3 separate regions of the Homo sapiens genome follow, and all the other regions are linked to region 3. Evidence: fine-mapped QTL for protein levels in blood plasma. Region 3 holds a variant in brackets. A gene starts in each other region. All regions are shown on their reverse strands.

Region 1 (5,184 bases), not on the chromosome of region 3:
ATTGAGCTTGTTTATGTTAAAAGATATTCATTGCAGTACTTCTCAAAATAGAAAACACATACTGTAATCTAATATTTACATGTATATTATCAATAGTGGAAATTCTAAATTATGGTCCCTTCACACAATGATATTCTGTATAGTAATTAAATAAGCATGTAATCAGTATATATTGATGCAAAAAATCTCTAAGAAATATTGTTACCTAAAAAGGTAATTCAATAGGATCACACTGTGATTACAGTTTGCCATGGTAGGGTGATGAGATAAAGTAAAACTTTAATTTTAATTTAAACATTTCCACACTTGTTCTATATATCTATCAAAAATATTATTTAATATTATCACAATACAAATCCACTGGTGTCACTTAAGTCAAACATAAAATGGGACAGTTAGAGCCTCTGATACAGCATAAGCCTAAATGCTTTTTCTACATCTTCCTTTTCTCTTTTTTCTTTAAAAGAATCTTCTCATATTACTCTCTTTCTTTTCATCTTATTTCTCTTTTATATATTTTATCTCCCCTCTTGGTCCAATATACATTTTATAAAGAAGTTTCTGTTATCCAACTTATTTGACTCTATGTCCTTCCTCTTCACCAACGTCATTTTTATTTCCTTCCACCTCCTTCTCCCCGTCATCATCAACAATCTTTAAAACTACCATCAATTCATATGTTTTAAATTAGTATAATTCCATCTGCTTCTTTGAAATGGAAAGGAGAGAAAGTACTCACGTTTACTTTGAGGTTTTTCTAGCCCCATTGTCTAATTAGTCTCTTGTTCAATGGTCAGGACGGCAAGAATTTGTTCTATTTTTTTTCCCCCAGAGTATATTTCTGTGGATAGGGGAATATATTCAGAAATACTTGAGATCGAACACCAATGTTACATATTGTAGTGAGATTAGAAAGGTACCAGTATAAGAAAGTTAGCTCAAAAGAAGTCTTTTTCAAAGACAGGGGTTTCCTTTGATACATTCCGGGAGATGAGGCGAAAAAAAAAAAAAAAGGAAATTGAGAAAGCAATACCAAACAACAGTTAGTAGAAACCCACAAGTATGTTGAGATCACTAGATCAGTGTGAAATGTGGAATTTCTCAATTTGTTTTTTTTTTCATTTAGACAAAAAATTTAGCAACGCCCTAAAAGAAATAATTGTTATGCCCAATAAAAATTTAGTAAATGTCCCCTCTTTTTAAATTCTTTTTGTGAATATTATATTTTCAAAGGCAGTTATATTCTTGGGGTGAGTTCTATACTAAAAAGTTCTCTGGACTGAATAAAAAGTTGAGTCTAAGAGAGCAAAAGACAATGTGAACAATGAACAAAAACTTTTAAAGTATACCTTGTGTGTACATGGCATGTGAAGACACAGCAACCTTTGTTTTCGAGTTGAGGAAGAGATGATAGAGCAGTTAATTAAATCCCAAGAACTTTCTAGGTGAGCAAAAAGAGTTGTGTTAAGGCAAAGACAAAGAAAATGTAAGATTCTGTGATAAAGACACCATCAGGGTCCCTGACTTCATTTATAGCACTGTTAGGGAGTGAATGTCTGTATCTCCTCAAAATTCATTGGTGGAAGCACTACCCTCCAACGTAATGGCATTTGGAGGTCAAAAGTTTGGGAGGTAATTAGGTTTAATATGAGGTCATGAGAATGGGGTCCTCATGATGGAATTATAAGAAGAGACCCGGCTAACGAGCTGTTTACTTCCTGCGGGTGCTCAGGCTGTGGCCATCTTCCTTGCTGTTGCTCTTCTCATTGGAGAAGATGGCCCTGGAGACGGTGCTGAAGGACCTGTGGCATCTGTGGGCCTGTTTGCTGTGTTCACTGGTCAAGGTACTATAGACCAGTTTGAATATGATGGTTGTGACTATTGAGATGCATATCTACAGATGAAGGGTAACTGAGAGATGCTATATGGCTGCACCAGCTCCTCCTTTGATGGAATCATTGCGATGATGAGTCCAGAGGACAGCTGGGTCTCCAACTGGCAGCGAGTCAATAACTTTAAGCCAGGTGTATATGCGGTGTCAACCACTGGTCGCTTGCCCTAAGGAATCGTGCGGGAGCTGAAAAGTTGAGGAGTGGCCTACAAATCCAAAGACACAGCTATAAAGACCAGACGCAGGGCTGCCAGCGTCTTTGCTCTCCACCTCCTGCCTCTGCTTATTTTTTGTTCTGGAACTAAATGGGCAGAGCTTCAAATGCTTCCTACCCTCCAATTCAGACTCAGCCAACTGTTGAGAGAACAGCACATCATTTTATCATTTTACCTTATTTGGACTTCAGGTGGGGGTGGGAGGGATTTGGGTTGGTGGATTAACAGATGGAATTGAGGAGAGAGTAGGATGCTGACTTTCCTACCTGTAGCCCAAGGCTGCGCCTTGCTCATGAAGAGGTCTAGGTCAAATGTCAATAAATAGAAACCTCTAGAAAGTTCTTAAGGCCATGACACCTGCCTCGCTTCCCTCTTCCTTTCTCTTAGGCACACAGTAAGAGCTTATTTGCCCTATAAGATACCTTCCCAGAGCAGCAGAGGCCCTTCCACTCCCTCTTGACTGTCTCAGCCTCCAGGATTGCAGCCTTTGTAGTGTGCTTCCTTGCTTCCTATCAGAAGGTGCTGTCCAGAGGCTCAGTAACCCCATCAGCTTGGTGGCCCTGGTGTCTTGTGCTTGTATCCTTCTGCCCTTGAGACCTGGCACAGCAGTATCCCTTGAAGAAATCCTGAGGCTTTGTCGTGCTCCTTGCTCCTTGACCATGTTTAATAATTCTTTTCCCCCTCTGCTCGTCAGTTTTCTTCTCTTTACTGCTCTTCCTATATCTTAGGCCAGTCTCACACACTCACATTTTACATTTTCCTTACTGGAGACCCTTGGGCCTTGGCCGACTGCTGGGTCCTAGTCTGCCTTGTTTGTGCCCCTGTAGGAGGCAGGTCCTTTTCTCCGCCGGCCCAGTAGGGGACCTTGGGTAACATCCCATTTTTCGGCCAAAGTGAGTTATTTGTTTTAGGATAAAAAATTTACTACAAATTCTCATTTACTTAAATTTCCACAGAAATCCTGTTAGTGTCCCCATTTTGATTTCCCTAAGTTCCTTGTTCTCCCTCTGTAAAAAAAGAATGATTACACCTTGCCTGTTTACCTCAGGAATGTTGTGATTGTAGAAACGAAGCTATGTGAAAATTATGCAGCCATAAAAAATGATGAGTTCATGTCCTTTGTAGGGACATGGATGAAGCTGGAAACCATCATTCTCAGCAAACTATCACAAGGACAGAAAACCAAACACCACATGTTCTCACTCATAGGTGGGAATTGAACAGTGAGAACACTTGGACACAGGAAGGGGAACATCACACACCGGGGCCTGTTGTGGGGTGGGGGGAGGGAGGAGAGATAGCACTGGGAGAATGAGGAGTTAATGGGTGCAGCACACCAACATGTCACATGTATACATATGTAACAAACCTGCACGTTGTGCACATGTACCCTAGAACTTAAAGTATAATAAAAAAATTTAAAAAAAAATTTAAAAAAAGAGAGAGAGAGGAAAAAAAAAGAGAGATGAGTTCTCCAGAAGGCAGTCATCTGCAAGGCTAGTAGAAAGCCCTCACTGGTAAAGTGGTTAATTTGACAGGACTCCAAGAACAAATTTACATGACCTGAAGGAGGACACTTTGGGATTCATCACAGAAGCCACATAACCTACAGAGAGCAAAGAAGAGCGACACAGAGCAGCTGCCCATCCAGGATTGCCATGGAGCCAAGGGAGGCTCCCCACAATGGGGAAATGATGAGTGACAGTCCCTAGGGACCCACACTTCTGCCATGCTGGCACTCTGATCTGAGACTTCCAGCTATTAGAACGGTGAGAAATAAATGTCTCTCTTTCATACCACCGGTCTATGGTATTCTGTTATAGTGGCCCAAGCTCACTAAGACAAGTACATAACAGCTTAGAGATCCTTTAAGAAAGATCTCTACAATTTCCAGAATATAGCCCTTTCCCTGAACTCTTCCCTAAGCTACAATATTACTTTAATGATATGTGTGTATATATATTCTGTGATCTTCAGTGAAATATTACTTTACTATGTTAAATTGGGGATGGGAGGAGGTAAAATTATAGATTTGGCAATCCATATATTTTCCGGCACCGCCAGTCACTACAAGAAGTATTCCAATAGCAACAATAGCACTAACCCACAAACTCGGATATGCAACCCTGGAAACTAGATTTTTGGTTAAAGTAATATTTATTTCTATCAAAAGGACCTGGGACTCCTAGAGAATACATAAATCCTGCTTAGAACAGGAAAAAAATAGAATAGGTCTGGTACATTCTGTTGTTCTCAGAAAGTGACTATAATTTCAAAAATATGAGGGAAACCCTACTCTAGAAACTTCTCAGAGCTGAATGAAAAGCTGTGTCCAAGACAGTTAAGATTACAAAAAGACAATATGAACAATAAGCAAAACCTCCATTAACCTTTATTTTTGAGTTGAAGAAGACGTGACAGAGCTGTTAATTAAATCCTAACATCTTCCTAGATAATAGAAATCAGGCTTGTTAAGGCAAAAAAAAGAAAAAAAAAAAGGAGAGAGAGATTCTGTAGTAAAGACACAATCTTTATCACAGGTAAAAGGTAAAGTGGTTAATTTGACAGGACTGCAAGAACAAATTCACATAATTTGAAGGAGGACACTTTGGGATTCATCACAGAAGTAACATAACCCACAGAGAGCAAAGAAGAGTGAGACAGGACAGCTGCCCACCCGGGATTGGCATGGAGCCAAGGGAGGCTCCCCACAACGAGGAAATGATGAGTGAGTGACAGTCCCTAGGGACCCACACTTCTGCCATGAACCCGTACAATCCTGGGCACAGGGGATGCCCCTGACAACCCCCCGAGTCCTGTCCTCCACCAGGCCTGCACTTACATGGAGAGCTGCATGGAGTCGAATTCATGGTGCTGAGGAGCAGACAGACTGCAGGCCTCCGCTAAACCTTGCCAGGCAAAGCCCACTGGCCTGGGCCCCCAGCACAGCCACTCCACCCCCGCCTGAGGACTTGGGCTGGTAGCAGCTCTGCATTTCTATGGGATGGAGCTCGCAGAGGTAACACAACAGGAACACCGTTTTTTTTTTTGCCACTTCCATAGCCCCCGCCCCTACTG
Region 2 (5,228 bases), not on the chromosome of region 3:
AGCCTGGCCAACATGGTGAAACCCGCTCTCTACTAAAAATACAAATTAGCTGGGCATGGTGGTGGGCACCTGTAATCTCAGCTACTTGAGAGGCTAAGGCAGGAATATCACTTGAACCCAGGAGGCAGAGGTTGCAGTGAGCCGAGATTGTGCCACTGCACTCCAGCCTGGGCGCCAGAGTAAGACCTTGTCTCGAAAATAAAAATTAAAAAATAGGCCAGGCGCGGTGGCTCATGCATGTAATCCCAGCACTTTGGGAGGCTGAGGCGGGTGAATCGCTTGAGGCCAGGAGCTCAAGACCAACCTAGCCAACATGGTGAAACTCCTTCTCTACTAAAAATACAAAAATTAGCCAGGTATGGTGGCGAGCGCCTGTAGTCCCAGCTACGTGGGAGGCTGAGGCAGGAGAATCGCTTGAACCCAGGAGGCAGAGGTTGCGGTGAGCCGAGATTGCACCACTGCACTCCAGCCTGGGCAACAGAGCGAGACCCTGTCTCAAAAAAAAAAAAAGAAAGAAAGAAAGAAAAGAGAAGAGGGGAGAGGAGGGGAGGGGAGGGGAGGGGAGGGGAGGGGAGGGGAAGGGAAGGGAAGAAACGAAACCCTGGGGGGGATCTAGGAGCAGACAAGTCCCCTGCTCTGTGTTTTCATAATCTAGTATCCAGGAAGGGGTAAGCACCCTGCGTGTATCTGGTTGTAACTAACTACTCACAACTGCACTTGCCTGTGTGAAAACGTGAGCTTGTGATGATGCGTGACGTCAGGTAGGCGTCCCTGACTCTCCGTAACCCAACTTTGCCTGTGCCTTGGGGATTCCTCCTTGCAGGTAGGAAGTGAGGGGTACAGGTTCCAGCTCTGGGCTGAGACATGATTCAGGGTTCCACCCTGACCTGGGGCTCCTGGAGTCTTGGGGCCCTGGAGGGTCCCGTCCACTGCCCAGACTGACCCAGGTCCTCGATGAAGCCTCATTATGAGGACTGGGGGAAAAGGACCCAGCCACTTCCTGGGGAGGTCGGAGACCCCAGGGTGAGCGTCAAGGTAGCCTCAAAGATGAGACGTCACCTCTTGAAGGCAGCCATGAGCCTTGGGTGGGGACGTCACTAGAGGAAGTTCAGGCCCTATTTTCGGAGGAAGCAGTTGGAGACCCCATAGGAGGAAGGGCGATGGGGCAGTAGAAAGTCGCGGTGTCCCCGCCCCCTCCAGCAGCTACGCGCCCCACTCTCTTGGAGACGCTAGATCAGTCCCTCCGGGCCTACTAAAGAAACCACGCAGGGCTCAGATCCGCTCCATCATCATCATCATCATCATCATCATCATCTCCAGGTTTATTTCCAGCTCCCCCGCAACCCCTCCGGACCTGGAGCCGCCTCCGCCCGCGCTGTGCACGCGCTGCGCGCGACCTCAGGGCTGCACACGACAGCAGCGCGCTCCGGTCCAGTCCATGCCCGCGCACTGGCAGTGACATGTGGTCTCGGCGCGCACATCCCACGAGCCACAGGCGGAGCCACAAGTGCAGCCGGTGACGGCGAAGCCTGCAGCCCGGAACACAGGAGCGTGGACTCTGAGCTGGGAGGCTGAGGGTGGGAGCGGGAGGGGGGTGGGGAGCGCGGAGGGGGGTTGGGGGGGCGGGGGTGGGGACGGGGACGGCTGGAGGCTCCAACCACTGAATGGGCACTGGAGGCAGGGAGTGAGGGTGGACACCAGTGTCCAGATGGTGGGCGGAGAAGGCTGGGAGTCAGGACCAAGATCCTAGGGGAGTAGAGGCTGGACACGGGGAACGTGGCGGGGAGGGGGCATTCCCAGGGGACTTGGAACAGAAATGGGCGCCTGGACAACAGTCTCCTGCACTCACCTCGGGGGCAAGTAGCCAGGTCCCCCCTGGAGGTGACGCTCTGGCACTCCAGGCCAATGCTGCTTATTGCCCTAAATACTGGGGGGCAGGAGGAAAGGAGACAGGGGGAGCTGTGAGACCAAACGGTCCCTCCCCCATCCTCCCCTAGCCCTGTTGGTTTGGAGCTAGGTCCCTGTGGGCATAGGAGCTCACTGGCCTCCAGGACCCTGTCTTGAGTTGGGTGTTTTGGAGTAAGGGAAGGTTTGGAGTGAGAGCGGGGATTGGGTTTGGAGCCGTGGATAAGGTGGGGACAGTCGGAGGGGTTGGGAGTGGAGTTGGGGTTGAATTTATGATCTGGTTGGATTTGAGGATGAGATTTGGTGAGCGCTGGGGCTGGGTTGGAGTCAGGTCTGTGCCAGGGATCAGTGAGGTCTCTGAGACCCTTGGGGAGCTTGCCCAAGTGGGGGGTCCTCACTTAGGGAGCCGGCGACCTCCTGGATCCTCTCATTGATGGCTTCTTCCATGGAGCACAGGGTCTTGCTAGACACCAACAGCCCCAGGACAGGGAGGAGGAGGAGACAGAGAGCTTTCATCCTGCAGGCGCTGAAAGAGGGAACCAAGAGACCCACAGCTGGATCAGCCCTGCCCTGTGGGGAAGATCCGGCCCATGGAGGGAGTAGGATCTGCCCCTGGACCTGGACCCCTGTCCCCCCATGTGGGGGACAGGGATGGAGGCTCAGCCTTGACCCCAGCCTCCCCGCTGGTGCCATGGCAAGCGCAGGAGCAGCTGTCACTTACCCTCTCGGTGGGCTCAGCTAACCAAATCCGGCACACGAATTCCTGCACCGCAGCTCTTTCTTTGAGGCCTCTTGGGGTGGGGCTTCCTGGCTTGGCTAATAAGTCCCTGGGCCCCCAACCCTCCGGTCCCACATCCGGGGCCAAGAGGAAGCCCCTGAGCAGACAGTAAGGGCTGGAGGAGGAAGGGAGCCTTCCCACTTCCAACAGGGCCTCCGTCTTCATGTCCAGAGACTGGTCAGGAGGTGGTGCCCCAGGGATAATGCCAGGGGCTGTGGTCTGAGGAACAGGTAGACAAGCAGAGTTTTGCATGCAAGGGTGGCTGATGCAAACATGACAAAATTAATGCCTCTTGCTAGGCATGGTGCGGACAAGCACTTGTAGTCCCAGCTACTAAGGAGGCTGACGTGAGAGAATTGCTTGAGCCCGGGAGTTCGAAGCTACAGTGACTTATGATCACAGCACTGCACTCCAGTCTGGGCAACAGAGCAAGACCACTTCTCTAAAATAGTAATAATAATTATGTCTCTGGGTGAGAATGACATACCACATTCATACCCAAATGCCCATGAGCAATAGAACTGGTAAATAAAATCATGGTTTATGGCCGGTGGCTCACGCCTGTAATCCCAGCACTTTGGGAGGCCAAGGCGGGCGGATCACTTGAGGTCAGGAGCTTGAGACCAACCTGGCCAACATGATGAAACCCTGTCTCCATTAGACATACAAAAATTAACTGGGCGTGGTGGCGTGTGCCTGTAATCCCAGCTACTTGGGAGGCTGAGGTGGGAGAATCACTTGAACCCGGGATGTGGAGGTTGCAGTGCACTGAGATCGTGCCCCTGCACTCCATCCTGGATGACTAGCTTGGGCACCATAGCAAGACTCCATCTCAAAAAGAAGAAAGAAAAATCATGGTTTATTCCATCAATGGCATCACCTGCAACAGAAGTTGGAAAGCCATTGCTCATGGGCCAAGGTCCAGCTCATGTTTCTTCTTGGACCACCCATGAGCTTGGAATGGTTATTACATTTTTATTTGTTCTTTGTTTCCAGTACAACGGGCCTTTTTGTGGTAAAATACATATAACATACAACTTACCATTATAACTTACTTTTTTCTTTTTTGAGACGGAATCTTGCTCTGTCGCCCAGGCTGGAGTGCAGTGGCGCGATCTCGGCTCACTACAAGCTCCGCCTCCTGGGTTCACGCCATTCTCCTGCTTCAGCCTCCCAAGTAGCTGGGACTACAGGCGCCTGCCACCACGCCCAGCTAATTTTTTGTATTTTTTTTTTTTTAGTAGAGATGGAGTTTCACCGTGTTAGCCAGGATGGTCTCGATCCCCTGACCTTGTGATCTGCCCGCCTTGGCCTCCCAAAGTGCTGGGATTACAGGCGTGAACCACCGTGCCCGGCCTTTTTTTTTTTTTTTTTGAGACGGGGTCTTGCTATGTTGCCCAAGCTAGTGTCAGACTCCTGGCTTCAAGTAATCCTCCCACCTTGGACTCCCCAGTAGCTGAAGCTACAGGTATGCACCATCTTGTTCCATTTTAACCATTGCTTTTGTTTGTTTCTTTGTTTCAGAGTCTCACTCAGTTGCTCAGGCTGGAGTACAGTGGCTCAATCTTGGCTCACTGCAACCTCCACCTCCTGGGTTCAAGCAATTCTCCTGCCTCAGCCTCCCGAGTAGCTGGGATTACAGGCGTGCACCACCATGCCCGGCTAATTTTTTGTATTTTTAGTAGAGATGGGGTTTCACCATGTTGGCCAGGCTGGTCTCAAATTCCTGACCTCAAGTGATCCACCCGCCTCAGCCTCCCAAAGTGCCGGGATTACAGGTGTGAGCCACCATGCCCAGCCTATTTTAACCATTTTTCAGAGCACAATTCTGTGGCAATAAGCACATTCATGTTGTTATGTAGCCACCACTGCCGTCCATCTCCAGAACTTTCTCCTCTTTCCAAACTGAAACTCTGTCCCCATGAAACACTCACTCCCTATCCCTCTCCCCAGCCCCTGGCACCCTCCATCTTGCTTTCTGCCTCTATGGATCTGATGACTCTAGGGACCTCCTAGGAGTGGAATCACACAGTGTTTGTCCTTTTGTATCTGCTTATTTCACTGAGCATAATATCCCCAAGGTTCATCCCTGCTGTAGCCTGAGTCAGAACTGTTTTCCTTTCCATGGCTGTATCACATTCCCTTGTGTGGATGAACCACGTTGTGTTTATTCCTTCATCCATCGATGGACACTTGGGTTGCTTCCAGCTTTTGTTTTGTTTTTTTGTTTGTTTGTTTGTTTTTGTTAGTTCACGTCTTTTGTGGGTTTTCTTTCTTTTTTGAGATGGAGTCTCACTCTGTTGCCCTGGCTGGAGTGCAGTGGCACGATCTCGGCTCACTGCAAGCTCCGCCTCCCGGGTTCACTCCATTCTCCTGCCTCAGCCTCCCGAGTAGCTGGGACTATAGGCGCCCGCCACCATGCCCAGCTAATTTTTTTGTATTTTTAGTAGAGACGGGGTTTCACCATGTTAGCCAGGATGGTCTCGATCTCCTGACCTTGTGATCCGCCCGTCTCGGCCTCCCAAAGTGCTGGGATTACAGGTGT
Region 3 (5,228 bases):
TGGATGTAATCCCATCCATTAGATGAAGGCAACTTGCCTATGCAATAGTTCCAGAAGAGCAAGTTAAATTGAGAACATGAACAGGAAGTAGTCATTAAGAATTACAATGGGTAGGATGCAGAGTTAATTCAGAGAGATATTTTGTTATTAGATAATTACATCACTAGGACAGCTGGAAAACTGAGTGCTGTGCTGGACTGCAAGCCTTGTTCTCTGCCCTGCAGCTGGCGGGTCAGGACAATAGAGACAGCAAGAGAACTTACTTTGTGGGAGAGTTAGGGGCTTGGCCAACTTAATTGTGAAATGATAACGACCTATCTGCCTTTTTTGGATTGCATTTTGCACAGCTAAACTGAAGGCATAGCCTTAGTTAATGCCAATAACCAGTTTGCACTTTGACTTTTTGAACATTCACTTGGATCACATTATGCTAAGCTCTAATGGATAAATATTTAATGGTAATTTTCCTTTCCTTTAAAAGTCATCTGAGATATTTTGTTCATATTCAATACATTGTGATTACATTTTTCTTATGGAACTGCTGTCATGTAATTCTTGAAATGGTATTTTTGTCAGGTTACAGATTAGCAAAAATTTTTAAAAAAAGGTTTTAGAAAGTCTTAAAATATTGGTCAATATAAGGAATCATGCAGTTGTAGCTATTTTCCAGTTTTTTGGGGTTTTTTTGGTTTTTTTTGTTGTTGTTGTTGTTTTTTGTTTTTTTGTTTTTTTTTTTTTTTTGAGATGGAGTCTCGCTCATTGCCCAGGCTGGATGGAGTGCAGTGGCACGGTCTCGGCTCACTGCAAGCTCTGCCTCTCAGGTTCACGCCATTCTCCTGCCTCAGCCTCCCAAGTAGCTGGGACTACAGGCGCCTGCCACCACGCCCGGCTAATTTTTTTGTATTTTTAATAGAGATGGGGTTTCACCGTGTTAGCCAGGTTGGTCTCGATCTCCTGACCTCGTGAGCCGCCCTCCTCGGGCTCCCAAAGTGCTAGGATTACAGGTGTGAGCCACCGCGCCCAGCCTATTTTCCAGTTTTTACATTCAAGTGTTCAGACCTGTCTGGCTCTTTTGTTTTGCAAGTGTAAGGGTTCTAGGTAGCCTAGCCCCATTCCTTATTGATTTATATAAATACATTACAGATTGTTTACCTCTAGCCAAATACCAGGGATTTTAATTCATGCTTAGCTCAGTTGTTGTATATGAAACTCATTTGTTATATTAAAGTTTCTGGCCGGGCACAGTGGCTCACGCCTGTAATCCCAGCACTTTGGGAGGCCAAGGCAGGTGGATCACTTGAGGTCAGGAGTTCGAGGCCAGCCTGGCCAACATGGTGAAACCCATCCTTACTAAAAATACAAAAATTAGCCAGGCATGATGGTGCATGCCTGTAGTCCCAGCTACTCGGGAGGCTGAGGCAGGAGAATCACTTGAACCCAGGAGGTTGCAGTGAGCCAAGATTGCACCACTGCACTCCAGCCTGGACAACAGAGTGAGACTCCATCTTAAAAGAAAAATAAGAATAAAAATAAAGTTTCTGTTTTCTCTTTATTGCCCACCAAAGTGACTATTATTTGATTTGGGGCAATTCCAGAGGGAGTCATTGTAGACAAAAAAAAGCATCATAAATATTATAGTCTAGCATTTCTAAGATTAATGTTTACAACCATTGATTCAAAATGCATTTCCTACCCATTGTGACTAATATAACTGTTAATTTTTAGTACAATGTTTACTAACCATTAATCAGACATAATTTAAGTCAGACAAAATTTCATAGTTTTGGGAAGAGCAATATTTCCCCAGATGTCTTCCATGGAGTACTAGGTCTGTAGGATGTGGATGGCTAGCCAGCACTGGAGCCAAAAAAGAGAGTATCCTACAGGCACCCTTAGGACTCTGATGTCCCTTGATGCCCTTTGTGAATGTCTGAGAAGTCTCTAATATGCTCCATTTCCTGAATGAAGTTAATAATAATGGCACCTTAAAAATTAAAAAGGATTATTTCCTTGAACCTGGAGGAGTCACTTCTACCTAATACCATTTTTTAAGAATATGCAAGTATATACATTAAAATTTATGTGAAAATGTTCTGCTCTATGGACTATTACACATCTCTTTAAAATTCCATGTTTTAAAAACTACCGATTGAAATGAGTCCTTTTTTCTCCAAGGTTTATCATTTAGGACAATTAGTAGTGGCTTCAGTGAGCTCACCTTTCGTATCTTGAGCATCCATTGAAACTGAGGCCTGGAGTCCAGTTGCTGCAGGTGGCATCAGTGAGTCTTAATATTTTGAAGAGAGCAGTATAACTCTGAGGAAAGCAACTTGGGTGGGTTAGATGTTATTTTTAAATTGTGTCATGCAAAGAGTGCTTGAAAACGGTTTCAGTGAGATGAAGCAACAGGGCATACTGCCAGGGTTGTTAGGTAACTTCTAAGACAAC[G/A]GTCCAGGGGGCAGATGACTTTTTGTTTCAGCAGTATTTTAGGATCACTTTATTCTCCAGTTATGCCCCCGTCAGAATTTTTTCTCTTTTGGAAATTACTATAATATCTTATATATATATATATATATATATGATAAACTATAAATGCAGTAAGAACTGGAGTTACTAAAATTACTATTGATTCCAGGTAGTGGTAAGCAATGTAATTTTTTCACTAAATATATTAATTATAATGGGAAATATTTTTAAAGTAATGTTTCAGAAACACAACTGAAATGGTCATAGTATGAAACAGCTCTGTGTTTGTATTTGACTTTAGGGACATGCCATTTTTGGTTCACTGCTCTTTTATTTTATTACAAAAATACAAGCAACAGATATAAAGAAAGTTGGGGATTGTGGAACTCCATTTTCTTTTTCAATAGGAAGAAAAGAGTGAAGTTGTCCAAGTATGTGGATTTAATAGCAATAAGCTGGCTTAAAAAAGCCTGTGAATAGTTGTAGTTATCTTGAATTATCAAGGCAAAAGAACTGTTTTGATAAATTTTCCACATATTAAATCCATGCATGATAGCAATCATATTTTTAGAGTGTGAGACTTAATATGATTTATGGTACTATCTTTAATAAATCTGTTAAGAGTTTTTACTTTATTGGAATAATTTTCCAGAATAAGTAACATTAGGGGAAAATATTAAGTTTAGGAATGGATATTAAAACTTAAAAACCAGAATGTTTAGAAGTAGATAAATGTGAGGAAAAAATTTTCAATGGATTCTGGTTAATTTTAATGGAGTTGTATAATTCACCCCAAACTGCCCATAATTAAAAAGAAGCTTGGATCTGGCTATGAAGCATGTGTAGTTGTTGGTGTTCTGTTTTTTGACCTGCCAGATTTAACCTAATTACAGTGGTGGGGTTTTTTTGTTAAGTGTTTTTTGTTTTTGGTTTTGGTTTTTTTTTTTCGTTTCCTTTAAAATTTAGTATAGATTCACAGAGAAGTCCAAATGTGGGGTCCATAAAGCCCAGAAATGCAGAAGGATGACATGGTGAACCAGCAAGGCATTAAAAGTTTAACAGAGGTCCTAGGAATACAACCCAAAAGGGATGTGAAGGACCTCTTTAAGGAGAACCACAAACCAGTGCTCAAGGAAATAAGAGAGGACATAAACAAATGGAAAAACATTCCATGCTCATGGACACAAAGAATCAATATTGTGAAAATCGCCATACTGCCTAAAGTAATTTATATATTCAATGCTATCCCCATCCAGCTACCATTGACTTTCTTCACAGAATTAGAAAAAACTACTTTAAATTTCATATGGAACCAAAAAAGAGTCTGTATAGCCAAGACAATCCTAAGCAAAAAGAACAAAGCTGGAGGCATCATGCTACCTGACTTTAAACTATACTACAAGGCTACAGTAACCAAAACAGCATGGTACTGGTACCAAAACAAATATATAGACCAATGGAACAGAACAGAGGCCTCAGAAATAATGCCACATGGCTGGGCACGGTGGCTCACACCTGTAATCCCAACACTTCAGGAGGCCGAGGTGGGCAGGTCACCTAAGGTCAGGAGTTTGAGACCAGTCTGACCAACATGGAGTAACCCCGTCTCTACTAAAAATATAAAATTAGCTGGGCGTGGTGGCCCATGCCTGTAATCCCAGCCACTCGGGTTGGGAGTAGTACTTGGCTGAGGCAGGAGAATCGCTTGAACCTGGGAGGCGGAGGTTGTGGTGAGCCAAGATGTGCCATTGCACTCCAGCCTGGGCAACAAGAGCGAAACTCCTTCACAAAAAGGAAAAAAAAACAAGAAAGAATGACACATATCTACAACCATCTGATCTTTGACAAACCTGACAAAAACAAGAAATGGGGAAATGATACCCTATTTAATAAATGATGTTGGGAAAACTGGCTAGCCATATGCAGAAAACTGAAACTGGACCCCTTCCTTATACCTTATACAAAAAGTAATTCAAGCTGGATTAAAGACTTAAACATAAGACCTAAAACCATAAAAACCCTAGAAAAAAACTTAGGCAGTACCATTCAGGACACAAGCATGGGCAAAGACTTCATGACTAAAACACCAAAAGCAACGGCAACAAAAGCCAAAATTGACAAATGGAATAAAATTAAAGAGCTTCTGCACAGCAAAAGAAACTATCATCAGTGAACGGGCAACCTACAGAATGGGAGAAAATTTTTGCAATCTATCCATCTGACAAAGGGCTAATATCCAGAATCTACAGGGAACTTAAAACAAATTTACAAGAAAAAAACAACCCCATCAAAAAGTGGACAAAGGATATGAACAGACATTTTCTCAAAAGAAGACATTTATGAGGCCAACAAACATATGAAAAAAAAGCTCATCATCACTGTTCATTAGAGAAATGCAAATCAAAACCACAATGAGATGCCATCTCACACCAGTTAGAATGGCAATCATTAAAAAGTCAGGAAACAACAGATGCTGGAGAGGATGTGGAGAAACAGGAATGCTTTTACACTGTTGGTGGGAGTGTAAATTAGTTCAACCATTGTGGAAGACAGTGTGGCAATTCCTTAAGGATCTAGAACCAGAAATACCATTTGATCCAGTGATCCCATTACTGAGTATATACCCAAAGGATTATAAATCATTCTACTGTAAAGACACATGCACACATATGTTTATTGCAGCACTGTTCACAATAGCAAAGACTTGGAATCAACCCAAATGCCCATCAATGATAGACTGGATAAAGAAAATGTGGCACATA

Direction of the effects. Alleles are on the strand shown, and positions count from the first base shown. The strength of an association depends on the size of the effect and on how common the allele is.
As copies of G replace A in region 3, the plasma level of the protein whose gene starts at base 997 in region 1 goes up (weak association).
For the plasma level of the protein whose gene starts at base 2,699 in region 2, G is the high allele of the variant in region 3 and A is the other (weak association).

What was found. PIP is the chance, under the fine-mapping model, that this variant and not a neighbour inherited with it causes the effect. Protein levels are from antibody-based Olink assays in UK Biobank. Linkage for the fine-mapping came from a reference panel and not from the study's own genotypes, which makes the PIPs less certain.
Region 1: it holds the start of CLEC4D, and the variant in region 3 is fine-mapped to the plasma level of the CLEC4D protein (UK Biobank, PIP above 0.99).
Region 2: it holds the start of RETN, and the variant in region 3 is fine-mapped to the plasma level of the RETN protein (UK Biobank, PIP above 0.99).

Annotation. Positions count from the first base shown.
Region 1 is chr12:8,509,316-8,514,499 of GRCh38, reverse strand. CLEC4D (C-type lectin domain family 4 member D) reads right to left here and starts at 997. Exons shown (of 6, transcript NM_080387.5): 1 at 740-997. The coding sequence starts at 767. It also overlaps the pseudogene SUPT4H1P2.
Region 2 is chr19:7,666,520-7,671,747 of GRCh38, reverse strand. It overlaps RETN (resistin), which reads right to left and starts at 2,699. Exons shown (of 4, transcript NM_020415.4): 1 at 2,627-2,699; 2 at 2,304-2,431; 3 at 1,850-1,927; 4 at 1,293-1,529. The coding sequence starts at 2,421. The coding sequence ends at 1,399.
Region 3 is chr7:92,776,277-92,781,504 of GRCh38, reverse strand. All of the region lies in intron 2 of CDK6 (cyclin dependent kinase 6), which reads left to right. Among named protein-coding and RNA genes, the nearest start is that of CDK6-AS1, 58 kb to the left of the region's middle. The variant G/A (reference allele first, on the strand shown) is at 2,449.